Homo sapiens: one gene and its partners. The protein of the gene in region 3 interacts with the protein of the main gene of each other region in a biochemical or structural test. Each region holds a gene or a part of one and is shown on either strand. Other genes may lie near its edges. The genes, in order: PGAM5, FBXO7, PINK1 and MAP3K7.

Region 1 (7,183 bases), on a different chromosome or scaffold from region 3:
GAAAATCACTTGAACTGGGAAGGCAGAGGTTGCAGTGAGCCAAGATCGTGCCACTGCACCCCAGCCTGGGCAACAGAGTGAGACTCTGTCTCAAAAAAATAAATAAATAAAATAAAAAATAAAAATAGGGCTGGGTGCAGCGGCTCACGCCTGTAATCCTAGCACTTTTTGAGGCCGAGGCAGGCGGATTACTTGAGGTCAGGAGTTTGAAACCAGCCTGGCCAACATGATGAAACCCCCTCTCTACTAAGAAATAATAAAATAAAAATTAAAAACTTAAAAGGCTGAACATTGCCGTGTGCGTGGACTGCATTTTGCCTGTCCGTCTGTCCGTCAGTGGCTAGACTGTTTCCAGCTCCTGGATGCCGTGAAGGATGTGGCGGTGAAGACAGCGGCACTAATGCCTGCTCAAGTCCTGCTTGCCTTGGGTTTTCAAAGAACTGCTCTTTCAGTTCAGAATATTTAAGGTGGGGTCGTTCCCAAAGGAAGTTTAGGGCATTTGCAAAAGTAACAGATGCTCCTGCAATTGATGCAGAAGGTGACAATTCTGACTATCCCTCTAACTTGCCACTTCCCAGTGAGTCCCACCCCCTGCCATGATGGAGGATTAAGAACCTGGATCTCAGAACAGATTCTAGATTAGAATCCAGAGATGACAGTACTGACACCGCTTAGGGCTGCTTTGTGCCGGAACTCTTCTGAGAGCTGCAGCAGCCCTGAGGGAGGTGCCATTGTTTTCTCTACTCCACATGTGGGGGATGCAAGATGCCTCAGCTAGCAAGAGACAGTCCTGATTCAGAGGCAGTCAGCCAGGTCTTGAGCCACCATCTTCACCACCTCATCATAGGGCATCAGAGTGTCACGGCAAGGTCAAGAGAATTTGCTGGAGAAGATTTCACATCATGTATATGGCTTACCACAGCCCGCATCCGGTCAGTTCGCTGAACACACCTTTACGGAGTGCTGTCAGGCACACAGGGGAGAGCAGAGACCAGGAGTTTTTAGTTTCACACACTTAACAGTCATCAGAAAACAGGCTTTTTTTTTTTTTTTTTTTTTGAGACAGAGTCTCACTCTGTTGCCCAGGCTGGAGTGCGGTGGCATGATCTCAGCTCACTGCAGCCTCCCGTTTCCAAGTGATTCTCCTGGCTCAGCCTCCTGAGTAGCTGGGATTACCAGCGCGTGCCACTATGCCCTGCTAATTTTTTGTATTTTTAGTAGAGATGGGGTTTCACCATGTTGGCCAGGCTGGTCTCGAACTCCTGACCTCAAGTGATCCATCCGCCTGTCTCGGCCTCTCAAAGTGCTGGGATTATCGAGCATGAGCCACTGCGCCCGGCGTAAAAAATACATTAAAAAAAAATATTTTCTCCTGGGCTGGTCAGTTTCCACACAGAGGAATCCTTTAGTTCTTGTCAGGGCATTGGGGGAAGGATGGTGGTGGTAGCTGAGCAGGGAATGAGCCTAGTGGCCAACATTCTTGTGGCTATCTGGAGGAAAGGGGTTAGAGGTCCTACTCTTCCTTATGTGAACTCTGTATAATCCCATCTTTATTACTGCATCCCCAATCTGAGCTATGCTTGGTGTCCTGAAATCCAGAACCCTCCTGTTCAAGTCCCCTGGAATGGCCTTTCTCTAGTGCTCCACGGTGATGAAAGTGAGCTATTCCCCTGAACATGTGGGGGAGAAACGAAATGTGGAAGGCAACCTTTTCCTCTAAATGCTCCTGCTTTCAGCCCCACAGCTCTCAGACAGGAGGCTAATGCTGCCAACTCCCAGACTCTTCCAGACTCACTGGATTAAATGAACTTGCTTCCTGGTTTCCTTCCACATAGGCACTGGTGTTCCATATTCTCAGGTCGATAAAGATCTGATCTCCAGCTCTTGAACTTTTGTTAACTGATTTATCTGCTGTCATTTCTTCTTATGGATTCAACTATGTCCTTGTGGATTTTCCCTTGTTTTTTATTTTATTTTTTGAGATGGAGTCTTGCTCTGTCACCCAGGCTGGAGTGCAGTAGTGTGATCTCAGCTCACTGCAGCTTCTGCCTCCTGGATTCCAGCGATTCTCCTGCCTCAGCCTCCTGGGTAGCTGGGATTACAGGTATGTACCAGCTAATTTTTGTATTTTTAGTAGAGATGGGGTTTCACCATGTTGGCCAGGCTGGTCTCAAACTCCTGATCTCAGGTGATCTGCCCGCCTCGGCCTCCCAAAGTGCTGGGATTACAGGCATGAGCCACTGAGCCTGGCTGATTTTCTTTTTTTTGAGACAGAGTCTCTGTCACCCAGGCTGGAGTGCAGTGGCACCATCCTGGCTCACTGCAACCTCTGCCTCCCAGGTTCAAGCGATTATCCGGCCTTAGGCTCTCGAGTAGCAGGGACTACAGGCGCGCACCACCACGCCAGGCTTTTTTGTATTTCAGTAAAGACGGGGTTTCACCATGTTGGTCAGGCTGGTCTTGATCTCCTAACCTCGTGATCCGCCCACCTCAGCCTCCCAAAGTGCTGGGATTACAGGCGTGAGGCACTGCGCCCGGCCCAATTTTCCTTTATTTTTTTGAGACAGAGTCTCGCTCTGTCGCCCAGTCTGGAGTGCAGTGGCGCGATCTCGGCTCACTGCAAGCTCCGCCTCCCGGGTTCACGGCATTCTCCTGCCTCAGCCTCCCTAGTAGCTGGGACTACAAGCACCCGCCACCATGCCCTATTTTTTTTTTTTTTTTTTGTATTATTAGTAGAGACGGGTTTTCACCGTGTTAGCCAGGATGGTCTCGAGCTCCTGACCTCGTGATCCGCTCACCTAGGCCTCCCAAAGTGCTGGGATTACAGGCGTGAGCCACCACGCCCGGCCTTCCTTTTATTTTTATTTTTTAAATCTTCCTATCATTTTTAGTAAATGACCTGGAAGCAGCAGACCCAACTGGAAGCGTACAGGTTCAAGAAAGCCTGTTTAAGCAGAAGTCTCAGTATTTCTGTGGAACCATTCAGTTTTTTTATTTTTATTTTTTTGAGACATTGTTTCACTCTGTTGCCCAGGCTGGAGTGCAGTGAGGCAATCTCAGCTCACTGCAACCTCCGCTTCCTGGGTTCAAGCAACTCTCCTGCCTCAGCCTCCTGAGTAGCTGGTATTACAGGCTGGAGCCACCGTGCCCGGCTAATTTTTGTATTTTTAGTAGAGACCGGGTTTCACCATGTTGGCCAGGCTGGTCTCAAACTTCTGACCTCAGGTGATCCGCCTGTCTCGGCTTCCCAAAGTGTTGTGATTACACGCGTGAGCCACCGAGCCCAGGCCCAAGTGATTTTTAAATAGCTTAAATCAGATCATGTCATTTCCCAATTTTAAAATGGGCAGAGATGGTCCAGCAATCCCACTTCTGGGTACAGACGCAAAACAATCAATGAAAGAGAGATCTGCACGCAGCACTGTTCACGCTAGCGAGGAGATGGCAACAGGGCAAGCGTCCAGCAATGGGTAAGCGGTGGGGTCGGTGCACGCAGGCGTCCAGCAATGGGTAAGCGGTGGGGTCGGTCCACCCAGGGAGCGCTGGTCCCCCTGGAAGGAAACCCAGGCTCTAACGCGGTCCCTCTGAGGACCCTGCTAGGCGAAACGCGCCGGCCATAGAAAGACTGTCCCGCAGGAGAGGGCGGTGTTCGGCCCGGGGTTTGAGGGGTCGGGACCAGGAGGAGGGACAGCCCGGCCGAACCTGAACGCACTTCAGGCCGCTTGAACAGCACACGCAGGAACTGCGCCGACGGAAAACTTTACTTCGTGTTCCGCCACCAAAAAAATATCGTTTAAACAAACCTGCGGCAGCTTCCCAGCTCCCTTAAACCAGGATCCCAAGTTCTCCGCGTCTCCGCCCCTGCACCCAGCCTCCGGCCTCGGCAGGCGCTTCCGGTGCGGAACCTTCTGGAAAGTACCGCGCCGCCCTCCCGGCGTCCCCACAACCCCGCCCGCACCTGCGCGCACCGGCGCTCGCGAGCACAAGTGACGGGACTGGAGCGTGGCGCGGCAGGTGGCTCCACGAAAACGCCCCTTCGCGCAAGGCTGCCCCGCGTCCTGCCGCGCCCCAGGAGGCGGGACTTCCGCCCCCGCCGCCCGGAAGCGGCAGCCGGGGGAAGCGTGTTCCTCGCGGAGCGCCGTCGGGGCCGTGGGCGCCTGCGCGGGCCGGCGCGGGAGCAAGCGGCATGGCGTTCCGGCAGGCGCTGCAGCTGGCGGCCTGCGGGCTGGCCGGGGGCTCGGCCGCCGTGCTCTTCTCGGCCGTGGCGGTAGGGAAGCCGCGCGCAGGCGGGGACGCGGAGCCACGCCCGGCTGAGCCGCCGGCCTGGGCGGGGGGCGCGCGGCCGGGCCCCGGTGTCTGGGACCCCAACTGGGACAGGTGCGCGCGGGGCTGTTTGGGGCCGGGGTCGGGATGGGGGTCAGGGCAGGTGTTACCGTTGGGATCGAGATCGGGACCAGGTTTAAGGTTGCGATCGGGTCGGGATCTGGGGTCGCCGTCTGCTTTCCCCAGCGGAGGAGCCGCTTTCCGGGGCCGCTCTGCGCGGAGGGTTCCGGGGGCGGCTGACCCTTCCCGCCGGCTTCTGTGGCCGAGCTCCGTCGCGTCCTCGCCCTTCTCCCCGCCCCTGCGAGTCCGCCCTGGGTGCCATCGCCGGAGCGCGGGCCGGGGCGAGGCTGAGGTGGAAGCCGGGCCTCCTTCAGGGGCGTTTGCAGGAGCGCGCCCGCGAGCTGCGTGCGGTTATTGAGCGTTTGAAATATGGCTCGTGTGATTCCTGAAGGGAATGCTTAGTTTACGTCAATTTAAACTTAACGCAAGCAGGGCCGGGTGCGGTAGCTCAGGCCTGTAATCCCAGCGTTTGGGAGGCTGAGGCCGGAGGATCGCTTGAGAAATTTGAAACCAGCCTGGGCAACATAGTGAGACCCCCATCTCTACAAAAAATACAAAAAAAATTGGCCGAGCGAGGTGGCGCGCGCCTGTGGTCCCAGCTACTCGGGAGGCTGAGGTAGGAGGATCCCTTGAGTCCAGGGGTCCCAGGCTGCACAGTGTGAGCCGAGATCCCGCCACTTCACTCCAGCCTGAGCAACAGAGCCTGTCTCAAAGGAAAAAAAAAAAAAGTAGTGCAGGTTTTTAACATTAGTTATGTGTTGAAATAGTATTTTTAGCATATTGAATTAAAAGTATGATCGAAATTCACCTGTTTCTTTTTAATGTTGCTATTAGAAAATGTATAATTTCACATGTTGCTGGCATTCTGTTTCTGTCGGCCAGGACTGCTCTAGCGGCAAGGATGGTTTTCCCAGTCCTAACTCCTCATTATACTCAGTACTTTGAGAAAGGGGGCACAGAATTATACTACTGTGGTTGCGTTAGGTACTTTATATTAGATTTTTATCTTTTGTTAACCTTATTTCCTCTATTATTAGCATCATACACTAAGCATGGTGTATATATCAAAATTAATGAGCCAAAATAATATAGATTAATTATAGTTATTATATTAGTTTATAATACATTACTGTTAACTAAGGTTCATGTTTCATTGAGATTTCCTCAGCTTTTACCTGCTGTTCTGTTCTAGGGTCCCACATGACAAGTAGTCTTCATGCCTCCGTAGGCATGTTTTGGCTGTGACAATTTCTCAGACTTGTTTTGATGATCATGAGTGTTTGAGGCGTCCTGGTCAGGGGTTTGGTAGAAGGTCCCTCAATTGAGACTTCTCTGAAGGTTTTCTCATGATTAGACTGGAGTTACATTCTTTTTCCTTCTTTTCTTTTTTCTTTTTCCTTGAGACGGAGTTTCGCTCTTGTTGCCCAGGCTGGAGTGCAATGGTGCAATCTCGGCTCACTGCAACCTCCGCCTCCCGGGTTCAAGCAATTCTCCTGCCTCAGCCTCCCGAGTAGCTGGGATTACAGGCACGCGCCATTATGCCCAGCTAATTTTGTATTTTTAGTAGAGACGGGGTTTCTCCATGTCGGTCAGGCTGGTCTTGAACTCCCAACCTTAGGTGATCCTCCCACCTCGGCCTCCCAAAGTGCTGGGATTACAGGCATGAGCCACCATGCCCAGCCTGTTATATTCTTTTTTAAAAATCAGAATTCTGAAAAATCAGAAATTCTGAATCAATATTCTGAATTTCTTAGGTCTTTTTAAGGAAACAGATTTACTCTGCCGTTAAAGAACTTGAAGTAGGCTGGGTGCGGTGGCTCACACCTGTAATCCCAGCATTTTGAGAGGCTGAGGTGGGCGGATCACTTGAGGTCAGGAGTTCGAGACCAGCCTGACCAACACGGTGACACTCTGTATTTACTAAAAATACAAAAAAATTAGCCAGGCATGGTGGCATGCACCTGTAGTCCTAGCTACTTGGGAGGCTGAGGCAGGACAATCACTTGAGCCCAGGAGGTGGAGGCTGCAGTGAGCCCAGATCGTGCCACTGCACTCCAGCCTGGGTGATAGAGTGAAACTCTGTCTCAAAAAAGAAAAAAAAGAACTTGAAGTAGAACCGGGAGCTGAGCCCAGCCTTTCTCTTTTAAGCAGGTGTTCTGTATTTGCTTGTCATGTCTGGGGAGAAGTGAATTGGGCCTTGTGGGTTGGGAAAGACTTATACAGACAGAAGGCATGAGCAACTACAGGAAGGTGCTAGAAGACAGCATGTTTCTTCTTGAGTCTCACCTGTCCACACTTGAAAGTTCCAGAGCCTCATCTGGTGAAATCTCCAGCTTCTTCCTGGAGGTCTCATGCAGTTTACGGCTTCCTGTCTCTGTGCCTATAGCTCCCAAATATTTTCTCTGGCTCAGCCTGACTCCCCCATACCTGCCAATTTGAGTCTTGGCCTGGTTTATGACAGGCCCCCAGGTCGGCGTGGCCCAAACGGAGCCCTTGAGTCACCACCGTGCCCTTCCACAGCTTCCTTTTCCGCCACTGTCTCAGCGAGTAAATACCAGCAGGTTCGACTTTTGCTATTCCCAGCTCTGCCGCGTTGAACTTTTTTTGTTGCTGTTGAGACAGGGTCTCGCTCTGTTGCCCAGGCTGGAGTGCAGTGCAGTGCAGTGGCAAGATCATGGCTCCCTCCTAGGCTCAAGCAATTCTCCCACCTCAGCCTCCTGAGTAGCCGGGACTACAGCTGTGGACCACCTTGCCCGGCTAATTTTTTAATGTTTTTGTAGAGACGGGGTCCCCCTGTGTT
Region 2 (7,034 bases), on a different chromosome or scaffold from region 3:
TCAATCCCTGTTTCCATGATGCAGTTTTACCTATTTGAACAAAAATTTTGATTAAAAGTGTTCTAATATATTATCTTATACAATATGGTTATCCTACAATATAAAATATATTGGCAATGTTAATGATTTGATGCATTTTATTAAGAGGACTGTGTGGAGTGATTATTTCAAACAAGTTAGGAGTCTTTTGGATTTTTAATCTTTTTGAGAGTAACACCTTTCTTCATTATTTGTTTCCCTTTCATTTCGTTCCCCAGGGCACCGAAGCCAAAGCACTGTCCATGCCGGAGAAGTGGAAGTTGAGCGGGGTGTATAAGCTGCAGTACATGCATCCTCTCTGCGAGGGCAGCTCCGCTACTCTCACCTGTGTGCCTTTGGGAAACCTGATTGTTGTAAATGGTAATTGGATAGCATAGTCATGGTTGCTGGTTTATGGATTCTTAGACGTTTCTTTCCAAATGTTTTATAGCCACTTCAGTGATTGGCTATCATGATACAGTTGTGAGTCCTTCTCAACTGTATTTAATTCCTAGGCCACTGATAACATGTGTCTGGAAGATCATGGAATATGAGGTTGTTGAGTTGTTTAGGCCAGCACCCTTCATTCTTAGGGCATCCATTTTTTTGATGTCTTAATCTTTGTAATATTTTGCTCTGGGGGATAATATTTAATATTATCCAATATTATCAGTATTTGATAATAGGAGTGAAATGAGCCTATTACACATGAACTCCTTGGAGAATACTTTTTCTTTATGCCTGTGGATGGCTTTATTTTTTTAACGAAGGTCTTGAACTGAGACATGGGGAGCTAGACCTGGGGTCACCATTTATCCAAGTTGGCATCCCTGTGACCAGCAATGCACAACAACAATGCTAAGTTTACTGGGGCCTTAGTAAGTATGTGTTTTATTTGCTGGGCCTCCCCCAACAAATGTCACTCTGTATGAATAACTTTTCCTGTTTATTTTTCATATTAAGAAATTTCACTGGAATAGCAATGCATTCCATCTCTGTGTTTTAGTTCAGGTACCACTTTGTTTCATATCAACTCCTAGTGTTCTGTCATAATCACACATACTGGAGATCCATTTGAATGACTAGGAGCTTTCATTTTTGTTCTGTTTTGTTTTTTGAGATTTATCCTTTTAGTTAGAAAGATAGCGTGGTAAGATTGGGAGGGCTGCGTTTGTTGTTTTTTTATTCAGTATAGCTCATCTTTTTCGTTTAGCAAAGGCAGTTGCTTTGGTAAGCCTTAGGTCAAAGGTTTAGGTCAGAGGTTTTCAGTATGTTCTGTAGCTACTCCTTTCTGCTGAGATGAAAGTTAGGTAGAAGCCCTATCACCACTTAAACCTTGAGCAGCAAAATGTTTATCTGTTTCATTTATTGAAGTTCTGTGTAAGATTCTGTTTGAAAAAATGTTGGTTTTTTTTTTTCCTGCTAAAATCTATTTTGAAAGCTACTGACTCATGCCATCTTGATCTTTGACATGTTGGATAGTTCTCATTCCCCTCTTACAAAGTTTCTTTTTTCTTTTTTTTGAGACAGGGTCTTGCTCTGTCGCCCAGGCTGGAGTGCAGTAGGCAGAGCATGGATCATTGCATCCTTGACCTCCTAGGCTCAAGCAGTCTTCCTCCTTGGCCTCCTGAGTAGCTAGGACCACAGGCGTGTACCACCACACCTGGCTATTTTTTATTTTATTTTTTGTAGAGATGAAGTGTCACTGTGTTGCCCAGGCTGGTCTCAAACTCCTGGGTTTGAAGCAATATTCCTGCCTTGACTTCCCAAAGTGCTGGGATTACAGGTGTGAACCATGCCTGGCCTCTTACGAAATTTCTATTTCTTTAGTCATAAGATTCTTTGAAATGTTATTTAAAAGTCTCAAAACTAGGTTTAATAGCTTTGGTGGTACTTCACATTTGTCAGGACATGACTGTCTGATGACACTAGGACCTAGCAATGTCTATTCAGCAGTTCATCATAATTAGCAAATGTAGCTTTTACTTTGGCATTCTTGTACACAGAGTGTCAACAGTTTCTGCCTTCATCTAATCATTCTGCTACATCACATCATAACTTGCAAGGTTGGAGTTACCAAATAGTAAATGTGTAGTTGCAAATTTTGCCTTGATTTTTTATAAAAGCACTTAATGACGTGTATAATAACCTCTATTCACTAGATTCAGGATACTTAATATAAAAAGAATAACTGCTGAATGTCTTGATGATTTCCTAATTTCTGATGTTTTGTTTCTTTACTGTTCTTGGCAAATCAGCTCTTGGCAGACTTGCATGGCAGCCAGCCGTTCCAGGATTGATTCTTTGAAAAGGAGCAGTGTGTCTTTAAATCTTTCCTTCACCCAAGGCATCCTGCTTGGTGCACATGTGCATAAGCACATCACTGGGCTCTTTCATGGAATGAGATGAAGTGCGCCTTTGTATACATGATTAAAATTGAACCCTCTGGTGATGTCAAGTATATTTATCCTTTGGGTCTGGAAGAGAGATGATGCTGTGAAAACTAGCAAGATTATTTTAATGAACAAAGGAAGACTCATTGCCAAGGGTTAAATAAAAAATAAATGGAGTTTTTAGTGACTTCATTAGAAATAATGATTTTATTGTGTTTAGTTGCCTCTGATTAACCTTGTTGCATATCTTTAAGTTACTAATAAGCTGCTGCCTAGTGGATTTTATATAAAGATGCTTACTGTAGTTTTTAAAGGTGGTGTTGTAGAGTGATTTTACTTCATGTGATGCCAGGTTTACACTTTTGAACTTGCTATCAGAGAAAGAAATAGGCGAAGAACAGTTTGTTTTGTATAATGTGTCCTTAGTATATTAGGAGCTAGGAAATGCAAGCCCATACTAAAAAAGAAAGGCAGTTGATGAAGTGACAGAATTCTTTATCATCTTTCTTTTGTTTATTTACAGCTACACTAAAAATCAACAATGAGATTAGAAGTGTGAAAAGATTGCAGCTGCTACCAGAATCTTTTATTTGCAAAGAGAAACTAGGTAATACAAACATTATTTAACTTTTGGGGTGAAACTCTGTGAAATTCATATAAGAAAAAAATCTGAAAGATAATGTTCAAAAGACTGAAAATTTCTATATGAGATTAAAGCATATTGAAGACAATGTGGTTTGTTTAAGAATGCAAAGGTTTAAAAAATGTGAAAGTTTTGCTTATAATTTGAGGAGTTTGTTTCTTTCCTGTTTTTCTTAGGGTCATAGTGTGCTGAATTATATTGTTATGAGATAACACTAGTATGTAATTTATTACACTCTGATGATAGTTCATAGTTTCTGTACTAATCTTTGGAGATCTCCCTATTGAGATCTCCATATTGGTATTTAACCAATATGGAGGGGATCTGTGTTTCATGAAAGTAATTCAATGTCAAGTTCATTATTGAAGATTATTGGAGGAAAAACTACAATCAAAATGTTTGTTTAAACCTATATAAATTTGATGGCTATTTTATACAGATTGATACTTTACCAAAGGTTTGCATTCTAGGTAAGGTTTTGCTTAAACTCTATAAAATTATTAATAGATACAAAGAAGACAGGTTTTCCCTTTTATCATTTTTCAGTTAAACCAAACTGTGAGAGGCAGTTATAGGTGGTTGGAGCAGAAGAGATAAGGTGGAGAGGGGAACTGACATTTTTTAAGTGCCTGTTTCATTCTGTACTTGTGCCTGTACATATGTTATTCCATTTAATCTTCTTAGTAAACTTAGGAGGGTTTTAAGAGCCTAGTGGGAATGTTGTGGTACAATGGGAAGATGGCATTTATAGCAGTCCTTTAGGAAAGGCTGGCTAGATTGACATTGTTGCTTTGAAGGCCTAAAGGCTTATTCTTGTTCATTCCTAGGGGAGATCAGCCCTGAGAGATTGACTTATACTAACTAAAACTGACAGGAAAAGGAGATAGCAGAATACATATTTATAACGGTCTCTGATTGGATGTAGAGTCAGAAATTGGGAATTAGCTGAATTGAATTTTTTTTTTGAGACGGAGTCTTGCTCTTTCGCCAGGCTGGAGTGCCGTGGCGCTATCTCGGCTCACTTCAACTTCCACCTCCTGGGTTCAAGCAATTCTTCTGCCTCAGCCTCCTGAGTAGATGGACTACAGGCGCACACCACCACGCCCAGCCAATTTTTTTTTATTTTTAGTAGAGACAGGGTATCACCATATTGGCCAGGCTGGTCTCGAACTCCTGACCTTGTGATCTGCCCGCCTCGGCCTCCCAAAGTGCTGGGATTACAGGCATGAGCCACTGCGCCCGACCGAGTTGAACATTTAATGTCAGACTAGGCCAGAGTTTCTCAATCTTTTTATTCTCACTTCCCAAAGGAGCCGTTGGAGATTTTCCCCTCAATCTCTCTCCTTCATGAAATTTCATACCACAAATATAGTATGTTTTATTTATGTACTGTGACCCTTTGAAGGATCACAAACCAATATAATAGTTTTTCTTTTTAACCCGTCAAGGACCAGTTTTTGCCCCTGTTGGAAATGCATAAACTGGACTGATGAATTGGTATAGATGGCTTTTATCATGAGGATCAGAAAAACTTGAAATTCCTTGGCTACGACACTCCATATTTATCACCGTATAGGGAGGACCTTGTTATGGGGAGTAGAAACACTCTACACTTTACAGCAGTAGAGGTTTTATGCCCATTTTATAGATCAGGAAACAGATCTAGAGGAGGCTCACTTACTTAAGGGTCACAGAGCCAATAAATGGTGAAATACAGGATAGGAATAGATTTGGCTGACTCCCAGCCTTTTAAAACAACTTTTACAGGAATGTAGCTCAGATTGTTATTCTTTATCTGGTTTCTCTTAAATAAAGAAAAATGAAATGGAAGGGAGGAGGAACATTAAATACTGTTAAATTACAAGTTTATGGACTGTTATAATGAAGTATTTTTAATAAAGTCTTATGTTGAGTAGGAATATGCTGCTCATTTGGCAAGTCATTTTAATGAATTTTTACTGTGGTTCATAGCACCTAGTAACTATAACTAGGCACTGTTATTTATCCTTTTATTTATAAGTTCCTAATTAAATAGTTACATACCAGGTTGCTGAAGGAAAACATTCATTTAAAGAAAATCAATTTTCACATTTGAAAAAAGCCCTTGAGCCAAATTGATTTTAAAGAATGATATCTTGACAGCAAATTTCAACTCAAGATTGCAAGTCACACAACAAAGATTTAGACATTAGCTGCATATCTCTTTCCTTCTTCTTATCGATCCTGTTATACTGAGTGTTTTATTTGTTATAGATAGTGAAATACATAAATATGAAATGGGGAAGGAGCAAGCATAAATTGCCTACTGATACCCTAGGCACTGCTCGTGGAGCTTTCAATTATAACAACGCTTATCTGGTGTAGTGGTGGTGTCTCCTTTAAACAGTTGAGCAAAAAGGTGAGGATCAGAGGGGCAGGTTATTTGTCCAAGGCTATACACTTGGTAAATAGCAAAACAAGTGGGAACCTCGGCTGCAGTTTGCTAGTGCGTCCGTACTTTACTATGAGTCACCTGGGGATCTTATTAAAATATAGGTTCTGATTTGGTAGGTCTGTGGGGGCCTGAGATTCAGTAGTTCTAAACAGTTCCAGGTATTGTCAGTTCTGGTGATCTGTCGCCCACATGTTGAGTAGCAGTGTGGTGACTAAAAATGAGTGCTTTTGAGCCACACGGACTTGGGTTTGTGCACTGTTCTGCCACTAACCATGGGGCCTTGGACAGGCTTTCTGTACCTTGACCTGTTTTTAAAATGGAGATAGTAATTAGGAAAGAACTTCTGATGTGAAAGCTTGAAAAACGCTTGACACAGGTGCTGATACATAGTCATCATGCGATAAATGCTATTAATTTACCAGGTTCTAAGCGTTAACAGGAGCAGTTCTCCACTGTATCCTTAGTGCCCAGAACAGATTGATAGCTATCAGGAAATCTTCGTATGTATGAATCTCTCACAAGTCTTTTCTACAACTGCAGCCTATGAGCTAGAGAGGTTGGGCACAGCTCTACTAATTTGATATCATGGAATTTTTAGCTTTTATATCTAAGATTCAGTTTCATCAAGTCTTGCACTGTACTTCTTCCATGAGGGAATTTGGTTCATGCTTATCTTTGTGAATTATTTGTGAATATTTATTCACCATGTTGATTGGGTTTGGCAGAAATAGAGGACAGTTTTTTCACTTGATTTTGGGTTTTGATTTTACTTTAAAAAATATTCTAGGGGAAAATGTAGCCAACATATACAAAGATCTTCAGAAACTCTCTCGCCTCTTTAAAGACCAGCTGGTGTATCCTCTTCTGGCTTTTACCCGACAAGGTAAGAGATGAAATACTGTCACAATTTAAATGACTGTAAAGAATAGTAAGTATACTTAATATTCTTGGTGAGTATGACATCTGACTGCCCTCTTTTCTGCTCCTGGCGAAATGTTCCTCTTCTAAGACTAAGCTTAATATTCCTTAAGTGCTATTTACTTTATCTTTGTATCTCCATGCCATTTTGTACATATTTTTATTGTAGTCTCTTTTCCATGGACTATAATTGTTGATATGATTTCTTTCCACCTAAGGTTGGGAATACCTTGAAGGTAGGGAATATATCTTACTTTTGTATTCTTGTGGTCTAGCATGAGGTCAGGTACATAATAGATGCTCTTTCTCTCTGTGTAGATACATATATATATGTCTATATAGACATATATTTAGATATATATGTCTATATAGACATATATTTAGATATATATGTCTATATAGACATATATAAATAATACATGGTCTGTAATTGGATCTAAGTTTTTTTTTTTAAACCATTTATTGGAGGCTCTTTGCAGGCACTTAGTTGGATATTTCACATGCATTCTTATTTACTGCTAATGACTTCGAAGTAAATTATGTGGTACTTATTTTATAGATGATGAAATCATAATTCAATAAGGTTTATAATTCACTCGAGATCCTTATATTAGCTTCTCATTTTTTT
Region 3 (7,222 bases):
AGGCAGAAGAATTGCGTGAATCTGGGAGGTGGAGGTTGCAGTGAGCTGAGATCGTGCCATTGCACAGCCTGGGCGACGGTGTGAGACTCCGTATCAAAAAAAAAAAAGGAAAATCCAACTTCCCTTATAAACTTCATGGAGCAGAAGCAACGTGTGTGTGTATATATATAAAATATACTATATACTATTATATGGAACATACATATTATAGTATACACAACATATATACACATATACATATATATACACATTATATATATATTTTTATAATATAAATTTTTAGAGCTTGCTACTAGCACACTCCTGCTAGTTGCCCAGGATGGGGTGCAGTGTTGCAACTACAGCTCACTGCAGCCTCAAACTCCTGGGCTCAAGCAATCCACCCACCTCAGCCTCCTAAGTAGCTGGGACTATCGGCATGTGCCACCATGCCTAGCTAACTTTTTAATATTTTGTGGGAACAAGGTCTCACTATGTTGTCCCAGCTGGTCTTCAACTCCTGGGCTCAAGAGATTCTCTCACCTTGGCCTCCCAAAGCACCAGGATTATAGGCATGAGTCACCATGCCTGGCTTCAGAATTTTTTATTTTTTTATTTTTTATTTTTTTTGAGACGGAGTCTCACTCTGTCCTCTAGGCTGGAGTGCAGTGGCGCGATCTTGGCTCACTGCAAGCCCTGCCTCCCGGGTTCACGCCATTCTCCTGCCTCAGCCTCCCGAGTAGCTGGGACTACAGGCGCCTGCCACCATGCCTGGCTAATTTTTTTGTATTTTTAGTAGAGGCGGGGTTTCACCATGTTAGCCAGGATGGTCTCGATCTCCTGACCTCATGATCCGCCCGCCTTGGCCTCCCAAAGTGCTGAGATTACAGGCATGAGCCACCCCGCCCGGCCCAGAATTTTTTAAATGTGAAATTAATTCCAGCAAAAGTAGCCAGTGAAAACAACTTTTTCTCCCCCCAGTCAGAGTCTTGCTCTGTCACCCAGGCTGGAGTGCAGTGGCGTGATCTCAGCTCACTGCAACCTCCGCCTCCCGGGTTCAAGGAATTCTCCTGCCTCAGTCTCCCAAGTAGCTGGGATTACAGGCGCCCACCACTGCGCCCGGGTAATTTTTGTATTTTTAGTAGAGACAGGGTTCCACCATGTTGGCCAGGCTGGTCTCAAACTCCTGACCTCGTGATCCGCCCGCCTCAGCCTCCCAAAGTGCTGGGATTACAGGCATGAGCCACAGTGCCTGACCAAAAAAAATTTTTTTAATGTGAAATTAATTGATAACTAATAACATTTTCAGGCATAGGAGGGTGAAGTGTGCGAAGAAGGTGTGTGTGAATGGTAAGTTTAGGAGGATCAATCTCCTCAGTTAAAAAAGCCTCTTTAGTTTTAAGCAGGATTAGTCAAATTTCCCATCCTTAGCTTCTGCCAGTTAAGCTGTGGCAAAAGACAAGGTCAGGGGCTGGGGACTAGGCCAGATGTCACCTGTCACCCCAAACTGGCCAGAGCTCAAACATGAGACAGTGGTGATGAGCAATAAGAACTGGGATGGAAACCAGGAAACCCAGGAGCCACTGCTTGGCCCTAACAGCTGTGTCCTTGGGCAAGTCACTCCCTCTTCCACCACCTCAGCCCTAACCTGTAAAATGCAGGGGCTATGCTAATTTAGTGAGTGGTTCTACACCCCCAGGAAGAAGAGTGACCTCCCTGGAAGAAGATGGAATTCTGCCAGCGGCCAGGCTTCAAACCTGAACTGCACCGCTGGCTCCTCCCTGGCTCTCCAGCCTGCCCGCCTACTCTGCGGCTTTTAAGACTTTGCCAATCCCCATAGGGAGCCAGGTCCTCAAAATAAACCTGCCTCTATATAGACACATCCTATTGATTCCATTTGGAGAACCCTAATACAGACTTTGGTTGGGCAAAAAGAGAAGTCTTGTGCTATTTTAAGCATTAAAAAACCCTAAGAACCCTTGTGTATCCAGTCAGCAGGGATAACTCTACACAGGTAACTAAAATGTTAGGACTGTTTTTCTCGCCGTTCATAGTTTTTACTGCGGTTTCAGCTCTGTCACTACTAATCCTTTGGTTAAACGGCGGAGGCAGCCTGGCTCAGTGGTTAAGGGCACTGCATTTTATTAGCTGTGTGACTTCGAGCAAGTCCCTTCACCTGAGGACTTTCCTTCTCCATAAATTAGGGACGGCAACTACCTCAAAGGGATAGGAATGTTATGATTTAGTTGTCCGTACATTTTAGAAAATTTACACAAAGCCTTTTGCTGTGCTGCGACAGGAGCTGTAATCGGCAACATGTCTTCATTTGAGGAAGGGAAACATTAAAACAAATGGGAGGTGCTGGCTTTATTTATAGCAGCCGATCAGTAATGGTGAAATAGATGAGCTTTAAGGACCCTCGCCTCGGCCCTCGATCTGCTCAGAGCCCCGCCTCCACACCTAGCCCCGCCCCCACCCAGCTGAGGACCCGCCCCCGCGCTTAGCTCCGTCCTCCGCTCGGCTTAGGACCCGGCCCCGCTCACCTGGATCTCCTGACAGGCCGAGACCGCCCGCCGGCTCTCCGCCTGTTTTTCCTCGATGAGGCCCAGCCCTAGCCCGAAGGCCAGAAAGACTGCCCGGCCGCAAGGGCCCGCGCAGCCCCAGGCCCGCACCACGAACTGCCGCTGCAACCGCGCCGCCAGCCCGGCCACCGACTGGCGGAAGAAGCGGAGACGGTTAGGGAGCCCGAGCCCGACCCTGCGAGGCTCCGCGCCCGGTCCTGCGGCCCAGCCTGGACGCTCCCCGCGGACACAGCCCGCCGCCGGGCCCGGCCGCCCCAAGCCGTAGGCCCGGCCGGGCTTGCCCGTGAAGCGCAGCAGCAGCGCTCGACCCAGCTGCAGGCCGCGGCCCAGCGCCTGTCGCACCGCCATGGTGGCGCCGCGGCCCGGTGCCCCCGCAGCCGCCGCTGCCGCCACCACCGGCGTCCCCCGCCGGTCACAACAAACTTGGGGCGGTGCCTCTGCGCAGGCGCAGGCGCTGGTGGGCGGGGCCGGCCCCCGCGGCAGTTCCCCGACTCGGCGCGTGGGGGCGCTATGCTGGTACTGGCGCCTCTAGCAGTGACTTTCCCTTTGCACTTTGGACCCACGTGGAGGGCTTGCCGGTTCAGGCAGGTCCTGAATGTGAACATCACTGGTCCTGGGCAAAATCGAGAAGTCGAGAAGGGAAACTGATATTTTTTGCCAACCATGGTGCCAGACCCTTTACGTCTTTTAATTTATTTAACAGCTCCACCAACAAGATAAAAATGCCGTTTTTATAGATAAGAAAACCGAGGCATAGTAAGGGGCAGCATTCGAGGTCTTGTGAAGGTACCTAGCAGAGCTGAGCTACAGTTCACATTGTCCTAACTGTTGAATGCTTGCCCTCCTCAATGCCGTTAGGCTGCTGTATGTGTCCACAGTCTCAGGGGTTTTGAAGACCCCAAGACAAATCTCACCCAAAAGACACAATTTATGAATGAGTGTGCTGAGGTCCCAAGATAGCAGCTTGCCCAAAGCCACACCGTTTGTTTAATGGCATAGGCCTGCTCACCACAGAACACACACACGCACGACACGCACATTACTGAAACAGTTTGCTGTCTCCTGGCCAGGGGTCCACCCCATAGCCAAGTAAGCCCAGGGGACAGAACTCTTCAGACAAAAAATCCCTTCTTCAGCAGCAGCTCCTATCTACATGACCTTTGACTTCATATTTAAGGAGAAAGGGATTTATGAACAGAAGCCATAGTCTCTGGCTTCAGCGGCAGGGAGACAAGATGGTGGATCCCCATGCCATTACCCCCAAGACCCAGGGCCTATATGCTATAGGAAAGGAATGTGACGGACATTTGAAGTCAGTCCCCCAGGGAAAGGCAAGAATGCTGTGTGAATCTGCCTAAGGGCAGGATTTATGGTAAGTACATACTTTTACACAAGGAACAATAGATAAACTGGAAATCTTAGAGGCCTTCCCTAAAAGCTGGTTAATCAGAAGTCAACTTGGTTGGCCGGGTGTGGTAGCTCACAGCCTGTAATCCCAGCATTTTGGGAGACTGAGGCAGGTGGATCACTTGAGTCCGGAAGTTCATGACCAGCCTGGCCAACAAAACACCATCTCTACTAAAAATACAAAAACTAGCTGGGCGTGGTGGCACACGCCTGTAATCCCAGCTACTCAGGTGGCTAAGGCAGGAGAATCGCTTGAACCCAGGAGGTGGAAGTTGTAGTGAGCAAAGATCACACCACTGCACTCTATCCTGGGCGACAGAGTGAGACTCTGTCTCAAAACAAAACCAAAAAACCAACAAAACACATCAACTTGGTGGATTAGCATCCAAGACGGGGTTGCTTTAGCTTGCACTGTGTGTGTGTGTGCTGGTCTCTCTCATAATCTTCCTTAAGGGAGGAATTTTATGGTTCTTGTGATATCCAATCATATTTATTTGGGAGAGGCATAGATGAATTTCCCATTTGTATAGAGGCACATGAATATCAGATATTTAATTTTTTGGATCAACCTCAGGGAATTTTTAATTATAATTTTAAATGCTCCACTGAAGTTGTAATTTGAAGAATGATAAGGGAAAGAAAGTTGGAGAAATCTCACATTCCAGTAACCACAGGCTCACTCATGGAAACTTAGTTGGGGCACAGATGAGTGGATTTAAAGTTTAAATCCACTCGTCTGAAGCCAGGTTTGCAGTGGTTCACTCCAGCACGTGGGGAGGCTGAGGTGGGAGGATCGCTTGAGGCCAGGAGTTCAAGACCAGCCTGGGCAACATAGGGAGACCCTGTCACTACAGATAATAATAATTTAAAAGACCCCAGCGAGGCATGGTGGCAAGTGCCTGAGGTCCCAGCTACTTGGGAGTCTGAGGCAGGAGGATTGCTTGAGTCCAGGGGGTTGGGGCTGCAGTGGGCTGTGATTGTGCCACTCCACTCTCCACTCCAGCCTGGGTGACAGAGTGAGACTCTGTCTTAAAATAAAATCAATCTACTCATCTGCTGTGTCTCATTACTGTAAACTAAAAATGAGGTTCTAAGCTCCCCAACTGACTAAATGGACCCCCTCTGGGCCAAAGAAAACCTAAAAAACTAAATTTCAGGCCATGAAAGGAAGGGAGGTTGGACACGCCTCCTTATACCCCCTCCCTTTTGGAGTTTAGCCACGACTGACCAGCATTAATATTCAATAGTGCACATAAGACTGACAATAAGATACCAAATTCCAGCCTGACGCTGGTATCATAGCTGTCCATTGGGTTCCCCTTGTTCATTGCCTAGACAGAGCTGATTTATCAAGACAGGGGAATTGCAATAGAGAATGGGTTTAATTCATACAGAGCCACCTGTATGGGAAACCAGAGTTTTATTATTACTCAAATCAATCTCCCTGAAAACTCAAGGATGGTGGTTTTTATGGATAATTTGGTGAGTAGGGGGTCAGAAAGTGGGGAGTGCTGATTGGTTGGGTCAGAGATGAAGTCATAGGGAGTTGACACCGTCCTCGTGTGCTGAGTCAGCACAAAACCTTGGCTTCTGCAACCCCCCTTATCTTAACTCAAGCGTTTCTTTCTACTGAGTTCAATTCTTCAGACAAAGCTTAACTCTTTCAACCAATTGCCAGTCAGAAAATCTTTGACTCCACGTAGAACCTATGAGCATCCACTGCTTCAAGATGTTCCACCTTTCCAGGCTGAACCAATGTATATGCCTTCCATGTATTGATTTATATTTTTGCCTGTCACTTCTGTCTCCCTAAAATGTATAAAACCAAGCTGTAACCCAGCCACCTTGGGCATCCTTTCTCAGGACCTCCTGAGACTGTACTCTGAGCCATGATCACTCATACTGGCTCAGAATAAACCTCTTTAAATAATTTACAGAATTTGGCTTTTTTTTTTTTTGGTCAACATTACCATTATAGCTCCTCTCTTTAATGTTTATAGAGAAGGAAAAAGAGGTTCTCTGAGATATTTAATGTTTCAACTACAAAGATTTTCTTTAATCTCCCAGGAACATAACCTTTTAGTATGAGGCTTATGATGACCACACAGCTTATAAGACATTGTATTGGTTGTCTTGAGTTAAAGAGTACGTTTGTCTTAAGCCTTTGCATTTGTTCCCCTGAGCTGCAAATGAACTCACTGGACCTGCGATACGTAATCCATCAGCTGGAAATGAAATCTCCAGACTGATGTTAATTAACCTTCCATTGTAGGCTGGACTTACTCACTTCTCCATCTGTAGAAAAATCTGAAGTCTGACAGGTCTGAATCAAGCACAGCATGAAGCTTGATTCTTTGGCAGACATCTGTATGGAATGGACAAGTAAGTGGATTTTGGAAGAGAGAGGTTTCCAGCAAGGATTTCAGGGGTTCTGCATTCTCACCTCTCAGGTCAGAGATACAGCCTTACTGTGCCAGGGGCACAGGCATGCATTTCCCAGGGACAATGGTCCTGACTCCATTCATCCCTGTCTATCCTCCTGAGAAGGAAAAATTCTTTTTATGGTGGTGCCATGGGTCTCAGGTCTCAAGGAATCATCTTGAGATTCTCCCATAACATCTCCCATCTTTTTATTTATTTATTTATTTATTTATTTATGAGACAGGGTCTTGTTCTGTCACCCAGGCTAGAGTGCAGTGGTATGATCATGGGTCATTGCAGTCTTGAATTCCTGGGCTCAAGCAACCTTCCTCCCTCAGCTTCCCAAATAGTTGGGACTACAGCTCACACCACTATGTCCAGCTAATTTAAAAAATATTTTGTAGAGATGGGGTCTTGCTATTTGCCCAGGCTGGTCTCGAACTCCTGGCATTAAGTGATACTCCCACCACATCTCTGGGGTTACAGGAATGAGCCACTGCCCCTGGCCTCTCATCTCTTTAATGGTATCCCAAAAAGGTGAAATTGGATATATGATTGATATGTTTTGGCTCTGTGTCCCCACCCAAATCTCATCTTGAATTGTACTCCCATAATTCCCACATGTTGTGGGAGGGACCCAGTGGGAGATAATTTTAATCATGGGGGTGGTTTCCCCCATAATATTCTTGTGGTAGTGAATAAGTCTTATGAGATCTGATAGTTTTATCAGGGGTTTCCACTTTTGTATCTTCCTCATTTTCTCTTGCCGCCACCATGTAAGAAGTGCCTTTTGCCTCCCGCCATGATTCTGAGGCCTCCCCAGCCATGTGGAA
Region 4 (7,034 bases), on a different chromosome or scaffold from region 3:
TTTTAGGAATGATCCAGTAGAAAGCTAAAACTGATGATGCAAGAGACAGGGGAGAATTGCTCAGAGGAGCAGATGGGATATAATGCACAGGCAGAAAGGTACACCTTTGGCCAGAAGTATGGATAGTTTAGCCAGAGTAACAGAAGAAAGCAGAGTAGATGGGCACAGATGTTGTGGAAGCTGTCTTCCGATTACTCCAATTTTCTCAGAGAAAGAGCAAACAAGATCAGCTGAGAGTGAGGAGTGGCGAGGAGGTGTTTGAAGTCTGAGGAGAGGCTACAGTATAAAATTAAGACATATAGGAGGAAAGAGATGAACTACAATACAGTACAACTGTCCAATAGCACTAAACATGCACGTGAGGATAGTAAACCTGTGCTATCTCCAGCCACACTCAGCTGCATTGGTACAGGCAAGGAGTAAGCCGAGTGTCAGCTTTCATTAGGCTTGTGGTTTAGCCAAGCAAGCTTGAGAGAGAGGCTAGAAAGATGAAAATTATTCCCAAAAGAATTATAATAGTTGATTGGAATTAAGTGGAGGGAGAAAGAAAAAAGGACCTAAGAGGACTGAGGACCAGTGAAAAGGTGGGAGGCTCAAAAAATTCAAGGTCACAGTAAGGAAATGAAGAGAGAGTTTAGAGGACGTGGGAGACACAAATGATAGAATTTTAGAGAAGTACATTTTAGAATTCAGAGCAACTCAAAATATTTTCAGTAAAACTGGAATTTGAGAATAACTAGCCAAGCAGTAACCATCTTAAAATAAATAAAACTATTCTTGAGGTGGGAGAAATAGATCAGTAAAAGTATTTTTCAATAAATGCAGGGTAAATACATGTGCATATAGACACACACATATCTTTAAGTTTCAATTAATAATGAAATGCTTATAATGCCACTATATTTTGAGAAGTACAATATTTCTAAGTTACAGTATTATTTCTACTATCTTTTTGATGACCACAAATTACATGTCCCACTACTACTTCACATTTCGGAAAACTAAGGAACTTTTAACATAGCTTCTTAAATCAGAGCCTCTGTAGAAGAGAACAAAAACTAGGGTGTTCGTGATGAAGAAATGTTTAAATACATTTACAATAATTTCTAATACTACTTGATCTAGTAGTATGCATGTAAAAGTGATTTTTCAAGTTAAGAATGACATTCACTGTAATACAATATGCCATCTTTTTATTCATAATTATGTAGGAATTCTAAGACTTGGAAGCAGGTCTTCAATAACTCTTTAATCAGGGTACCTACATGAAGAATGACGCACCTGTAAACTCAAATTGCAGTCAATCATATGAAATGAAGGAATTAAAATGCAAATGGGGACATTATTCATTACTTCTTGATTATAATTTCATGGGAATAGAGATGAAAGAAAAATCAAGTCAATACTCTTCCAATCTATCCATTTACCTGTACTGGTGGCAGAGTTGCTCTGTCCTTCATCTGAATACTGACAAGGATACTGTAATGGCTCATCTGCTCCTGGAAAGTACTATATATAAAAAAGTAAACCACAGCTTAAAATTTCCTTAATACAAATTAAATCCTGATTAATGTTTTATTTTCCCTAAGTTATATACTAAATTTGTAGGTGCCTAAGTTTTTTATTTTACAAAGATTACAATAATGTACTCTTGGATTTCAACTTTGATCAATGCCATGCACCTACCTAAGAATCTAGCTTACATTGGAGTCTAGATAGTCTTGAAGAAAACAGCAAATATTTCTCTAGAGAAACATATGAAATAAAATAGTATCATTTCTCATAATTATGTAAAACATACTCATGTTCTTACAGTAGTGATGTAAACTTCCAGTGACTGTTAGTCTGAAGACTGAGACTAGTATACCATAGAATAATTGTTAGAACATTTTAAATATTAAGAGGATAGATTATGAATGTCTTTCTACAAACTGGAGGCATAATACTCAAAGTATCTGCTGGACAAAAATGTTAGAATTTAGAGAAAAAAAGGAAACGTATTCTCCTCAAATTAGACAAGGAACAGAGAAGCAAAATTACAACTGCAATAACTTATATATCCTAAAGTTTTAAGTAATCTGACTACAGAGACTAAGTTGTTTTCTTATGCACACACCTTTAAGGCCTAGGCTTCTATATATGACTGGTATCCAAATACGATGGTAAACTTTTAGTAGATTAGTTCAAGCTGCTTTGCGTAAGAAATTTTCAATAGATTGAATAAACAACGTTTTACCATTTAGGAAATTACTTAGTCTATATTTAAGGAGATTGTAAGATTCTTCTACTGAACAAACTGTTTCAAAATTCAGGCACTTTCATAGATATTTGAACTTTTTAAAGCCAAGATACCACTTCACAGTTTTTGTTAATGTACCAAAAACCAGAGGCGTAAAATATTCCAAATAATTCTAAAGGCGCTTGATTCACAGACTAGGAAAATTTGATAATCATTTAAAAGGGTTCTTCTAAATAGAAGAAAGTTTAACTTTTTACTGGGATATAAAAACCTGAAAATAGGCCAAATAGTAAAAGTCACTCAAATAAATGTGTCTGAGAATGCAACCTATTGCCTTGCATAAATGACTAAATGCTTGATGAAAATTGGTATCAGAAAAATGTAAAATTTAGTTTATCATGTATTGAAGTCATAATATTAATATATCCAAGTCCTGTGATGGCTTTAGAGACTATCTATTTCAGTTTCTCCCACATTACAAATGAGGCAACAGGCCCAGAGACAAACATACTTGTCCACTAATGTAAGCAAAAAGAAAAAAGCAAGTCTAGAAACCTAGTCTAGCCATCTTTCCAGTGATAAAGAACTAGATTTTCCCTCTCGAAATGTTTCCTCTTCTGACTATGAGTAATAAATGCCCATTCTCACTTAGAAAACATAGCAATATATAAAGCAGAATATAGTAATAACATCCCTTTTAAAATTCCATTAAAACTCAGCACATATTAAATTCCCCTAAATCCAAAGCCCCTCAAAAGAAGGATTATACCCGCATCAAGTGAGTCATTATTTTCACAATTTCCTCCATTGAAGGGCGCTGGGAAGGATCTTTAGACCAACAACGAGTCATCAGGCTCTCAATGGGCTTAGGTAAATTTTTTATCAGTGGTGGTCGAGTACCTACAATTGAAAATGAGAGGAAGGGGGGAAGAATGTATTTACCCAAAGAATGATGCAAACTCTTTGTACGTATTTCCAAAGTGGTATTTATTTTATAGATCTTGTAGTTTAAGATCTGTAATTTGGAGTAATAAAAGTGCTTTGTAATTTTATCAATTAACAAGTTAGTTCTTTTACTCTTTACTTCACGGACGTTCAATTATTTACTGACAACTGATAGAAAGCAAGCAAGCAAGCTGTCCTGGTCAATGCTGAACAGTCTCCACAATGATACTAATGGTAGTAATATTAAAGGCAGTATAGGAAACTGGTAAAAACAGCTAAGATTACTCAGATGATGGTACTGTTTGATAAATCTATGAATGACCTAAATAATTAGGCAGACATTTGTTTTTAGACTTGTGGAATAATGTAAAAAATGGCCATTAGTCACATGATTATAAACAAGGCATAGAAATGAAATAACTAAGAGTGGCGCTAAAATTAAGAAGGTAAGTAATTTTCCTTCATGAAAAGCTATTTTCCCAAGCAAATGTAAAGTAACTTTACTAATGAAGAGGATGCATTCTAACATCATATGTGGTTAAAAACAACATTACCAGAACTATAAAAGAAACAGGACAGATGCAAGGACATTGAGTCCATAAGTCAATATGACTTAAGATATGAGCATTCAAGTCAGAAGCATCTGGATTTGAATCCCAGCTCTACCACTTACTAATCTTGTGACCTTAAGCAAGTTATTTAACCTCTCTAGGCCTCAGTTTCCTAATCTGTAAAATGAGGCAACAGTACTCACCTTCTAAGGGTGGGTGAGAATATAAACAGGAAAAATATGTGAAGCATTATTATTCTTTGCTTCTTCTCCTTGATGAGGCCCTTGCTTCTTCAGGAGAAAAGGGCTATAACTCTCCAGTTATATTAACCATGTCAGAGATTTTATGTATGTATTTTTTTATTTTTTCCATGATCCAGCCTGATGCTTCTCCCTAAGAGAGAGCCAACTGTCTAGGTTGCGTACTGATGGCCTTTCCCTAATCAGCGGAGCCAGTGAACATCCTCAGCCGCATGTGTAGACCAGGACTACTCTCAATCCTGCTCTGCTGGACTCTGGGGCAGGGACAGGGCAGAGTCTGATAATAGCAAAGCAGTCTCTTAACAAAGAATTGTACATTTTAATGTTAGAGATAAATGATATTCTTTAGGGAAGGGGACAGGAGTAGTCTTCCAAGTAGAAAACACAAAAAGTACTTTTAAGAAAAATTTCTTTTTACGAACCATTATGAACAGCCCACATGATTCGGAAAGCTGGGCCACCAATCTCATCAAAGGGTTTCCGACGCGTTATCACTTCCCAAAGAATAATACCCCAGCTGAAGACGTCACATTTTTCACTGTAATTACTACCTAGAAAAAAAAAAGGTAGTATATAACCTAAAGACTATTTTTCCACATGACTTACAGAAACAATGGCTTAAATTTTGAGAATGGGTATCAGGGATAAAAATGAGGCTGTCACATGTAGAACTAAGAAACTACTCTTTCTGAAGTACTTTGTCTTTTCAACAAGTACATTTTTAAATGAATTAAGTATCAACAATACACTAAAAAACTACTTCAGAAACTCAGTTATTTTCTATCTTTTTTCATCAAGAGGCAGTTTTTTCATCAAGAGGCACAGGACTTGACTTTTATGTATTTAGACTGATACTTTCTCTGGGGCAGAGTATGAAACATCTGTACATTCCTTTATGTTGTTTATTATTATTTTATTCTGAGACAGGATCTCACACTCTCATCCAGGCTGGAGCTCAGTGTAGCCTCAAACTCTTGGGCTCAAGTGATCCTCCTGAGTAGCTGGGGCTACAGGCATGCGCTGGCACAACTGGTTAATTTTTTAAATTTTTTGTAGAGATGGGGTCTTGCCATGTTGCCCAGGCTGGTCTCAAACTCCTGGGCTCAACTGATCCTCCTGCTCTGGCCTCCCGAGGCGCTGGGATCACAGGCATGAGCCATTGTGCCTGGCCTCCTTTCTGTTACATTTTAATCTTAAATTTTCTTCCCACTCTGACAGACAGCACTACTCTGCTATCAAAGCAGAAGAACTTTCTAATTTAGTGTTACAGTTTTTTCCTCAATATATGGTGAAGGGAAATTCTTAATTTATAAACTTAAACATTACGTTGTAAGTAACGAAAATTATGGATAACCTGAGTTACACAGCAAAATTTACAAACTAAGTAGGTGGTTGAATCAGCCAGCACAATAAGCACCCGTCATAATCTCCCAAAAACAAACAAACACTCAACTCACTGTAAGAATGAACAATTATTATAGCTATAGCTTTACATGCTAAGCAGTACACTGTAATATAGCACTACAACCATGCTACAGTCTAATTTGGGCTACAGGTTGACTGACATCTTTCAGAAATGAAGAAACTTACACAGCCTAACAGTCTGCATTTTGTTGCTCTAGACAATTAAGGGTTGTCTAGAGCAATAAAATTAATCTTTTGTATAAACAAATCTTTTTGCTCTCCACATACAGTAACATTGGGTCATTTTAACTCACATAAAGGTATATTAAATAAGTAAATAATTTTAAAACAATGTCAAATGTATACATTCTGTATATGAAACAGGAGGCATTATTTAATCTTGTGTAATATAACACCTGATTATTCATTTATTACTAAATTGAATTTTAGGGCAAAAGAGCTCCACTCAGGTGACTAGTTGCATTGCAATTTCTCTTCCTCTGGGGTGGCTAAAAACAAACAGAAAACCCTTTAAAGTCATCAAAACTGAAAGAAATAAGCTATAACCAGAGTCTGATTAACTGAATGTATCTGAATTTTATGGGCATTTACACTTCCTAACATACAAATCACATACCTTCAGTTCAACTTCTTTCATTTAAAAGATAATTTGATGTTTTTATACAGAAACCTAGCATATAATTTACAGACAACTCTTTTAAAACTTCAGTGACATATGGAGGTATAAAAGAAGGTAAACATATAAGCTTGACATTTATTTGTAATTCTTAGTATCTTATTTCTGTCCAATTACTTGCATTCTTTTTTTTTTTTGAGATGGAGTCTTGCTCTGTCACCCAGGCTGGAGTGCAGTGGCACGATCTCGGCTCACTGCATGCTCCGCCTCCCGGGTTCACACCATTCTCCTGCCTCAGCCTCCCGAGTAGCTGGGACTACGGGCGCCCGCCACCACGCCCGGCGAATTTTTTGTAGTTTTAGTAGAGATGGGGTTTCACCGTGTTATACAGGATGGTCTCGATCTCCTGACCTCATGATCCGCCCACCTCAGCCTCCCAAAGTGCTGAGATTACAGGCCTGAGCCACCGCGCCCAGCTATTTGCATTCTTTTTAAGGCATCCTCATTTAAACTTTAGGGCTCTCAATTTTTAATTGCTAGGAAACCAATACAAAAGCACAGTTAATTCTCATTATTCCTGGTATTTATGTTCTATAAAGTTTCTGAGAACACTGAATTAGTGAACACTGAATCACTGCTCCTAAGGAAAATACAGGGGTAGGTTCCTGTGTGCCTCTGGTCACCATGTTTTTGTCAACTGATCAATATATAGCCTTGTTTCATGCGTATTTCTGCTTAAAGACACCTTATTCATATATACTGTTGATTTATTACCATTGAACTCATAGTCAACATTTCTGTAACTCATGCCTGAATGAAGATAATTTAACATATGTATATTGTCTGTTAAGATACATCATAGCCTTCTTGTACTTAGGCAGTACTATGCTTGAGGGCCATTTTAAGTAGCAAAATTACCAACAAAAATCACAAAAATGAAAAAGGGCTCTGAACAGCACAAAAAAGGACACCTGCTTACAGCATGAGAGCTGAAACAA

The links.
Region 1: of the proteins of PINK1 (region 3) and PGAM5, one has a biochemical effect on the other in vitro, tested with the Homo sapiens proteins (one study listed by BioGRID).
Region 2: the proteins of PINK1 (region 3) and FBXO7 form a complex in vitro, tested with the Homo sapiens proteins (2 studies listed by BioGRID, with this or other methods).
Region 4: of the proteins of PINK1 (region 3) and MAP3K7, one has a biochemical effect on the other in vitro, tested with the Homo sapiens proteins (one study listed by BioGRID).

What each region holds. Positions count from the first base shown.
Region 1 is NC_000012.12:132,706,691-132,713,873, forward strand, and holds the start of PGAM5 (serine/threonine-protein phosphatase PGAM5, mitochondrial), read left to right. Parts: upstream 1-4,151; 5' UTR 4,152-4,186; coding exon 4,187-4,377; intron 4,378-7,183. UniProt on the Homo sapiens protein: Mitochondrial serine/threonine phosphatase that dephosphorylates various substrates and thus plays a role in different biological processes including cellular senescence or mitophagy. Modulates cellular senescence by regulating mitochondrial dynamics.
Region 2 is NC_000022.11:32,484,811-32,491,844, forward strand, and holds part of FBXO7 (F-box only protein 7), read left to right. Parts: intron 1-257; coding exon 258-399; intron 400-2,934; coding exon 2,935-3,018; intron 3,019-6,275; coding exon 6,276-6,371; intron 6,372-7,034. UniProt on the Homo sapiens protein: Substrate recognition component of a SCF (SKP1-CUL1-F-box protein) E3 ubiquitin-protein ligase complex which mediates the ubiquitination and subsequent proteasomal degradation of target proteins and plays a role in several biological processes such as cell cycle, cell proliferation, or maintenance of chromosome stability.
Region 3 is NC_000001.11:20,629,236-20,636,457, reverse strand, and holds the start of PINK1 (serine/threonine-protein kinase PINK1, mitochondrial precursor), read right to left. Parts: upstream 3,001-7,222; 5' UTR 2,910-3,000; coding exon 2,523-2,909; intron 1-2,522. UniProt on the Homo sapiens protein: Serine/threonine-protein kinase which acts as a sensor of mitochondrial damage and protects against mitochondrial dysfunction during cellular stress.
Region 4 is NC_000006.12:90,549,041-90,556,074, forward strand, and holds part of MAP3K7 (mitogen-activated protein kinase kinase kinase 7), read right to left. Parts: intron 4,547-7,034; coding exon 4,418-4,546; intron 3,140-4,417; coding exon 3,009-3,139; intron 1,510-3,008; coding exon 1,428-1,509; intron 1-1,427. UniProt on the Homo sapiens protein: Serine/threonine kinase which acts as an essential component of the MAP kinase signal transduction pathway. Plays an important role in the cascades of cellular responses evoked by changes in the environment.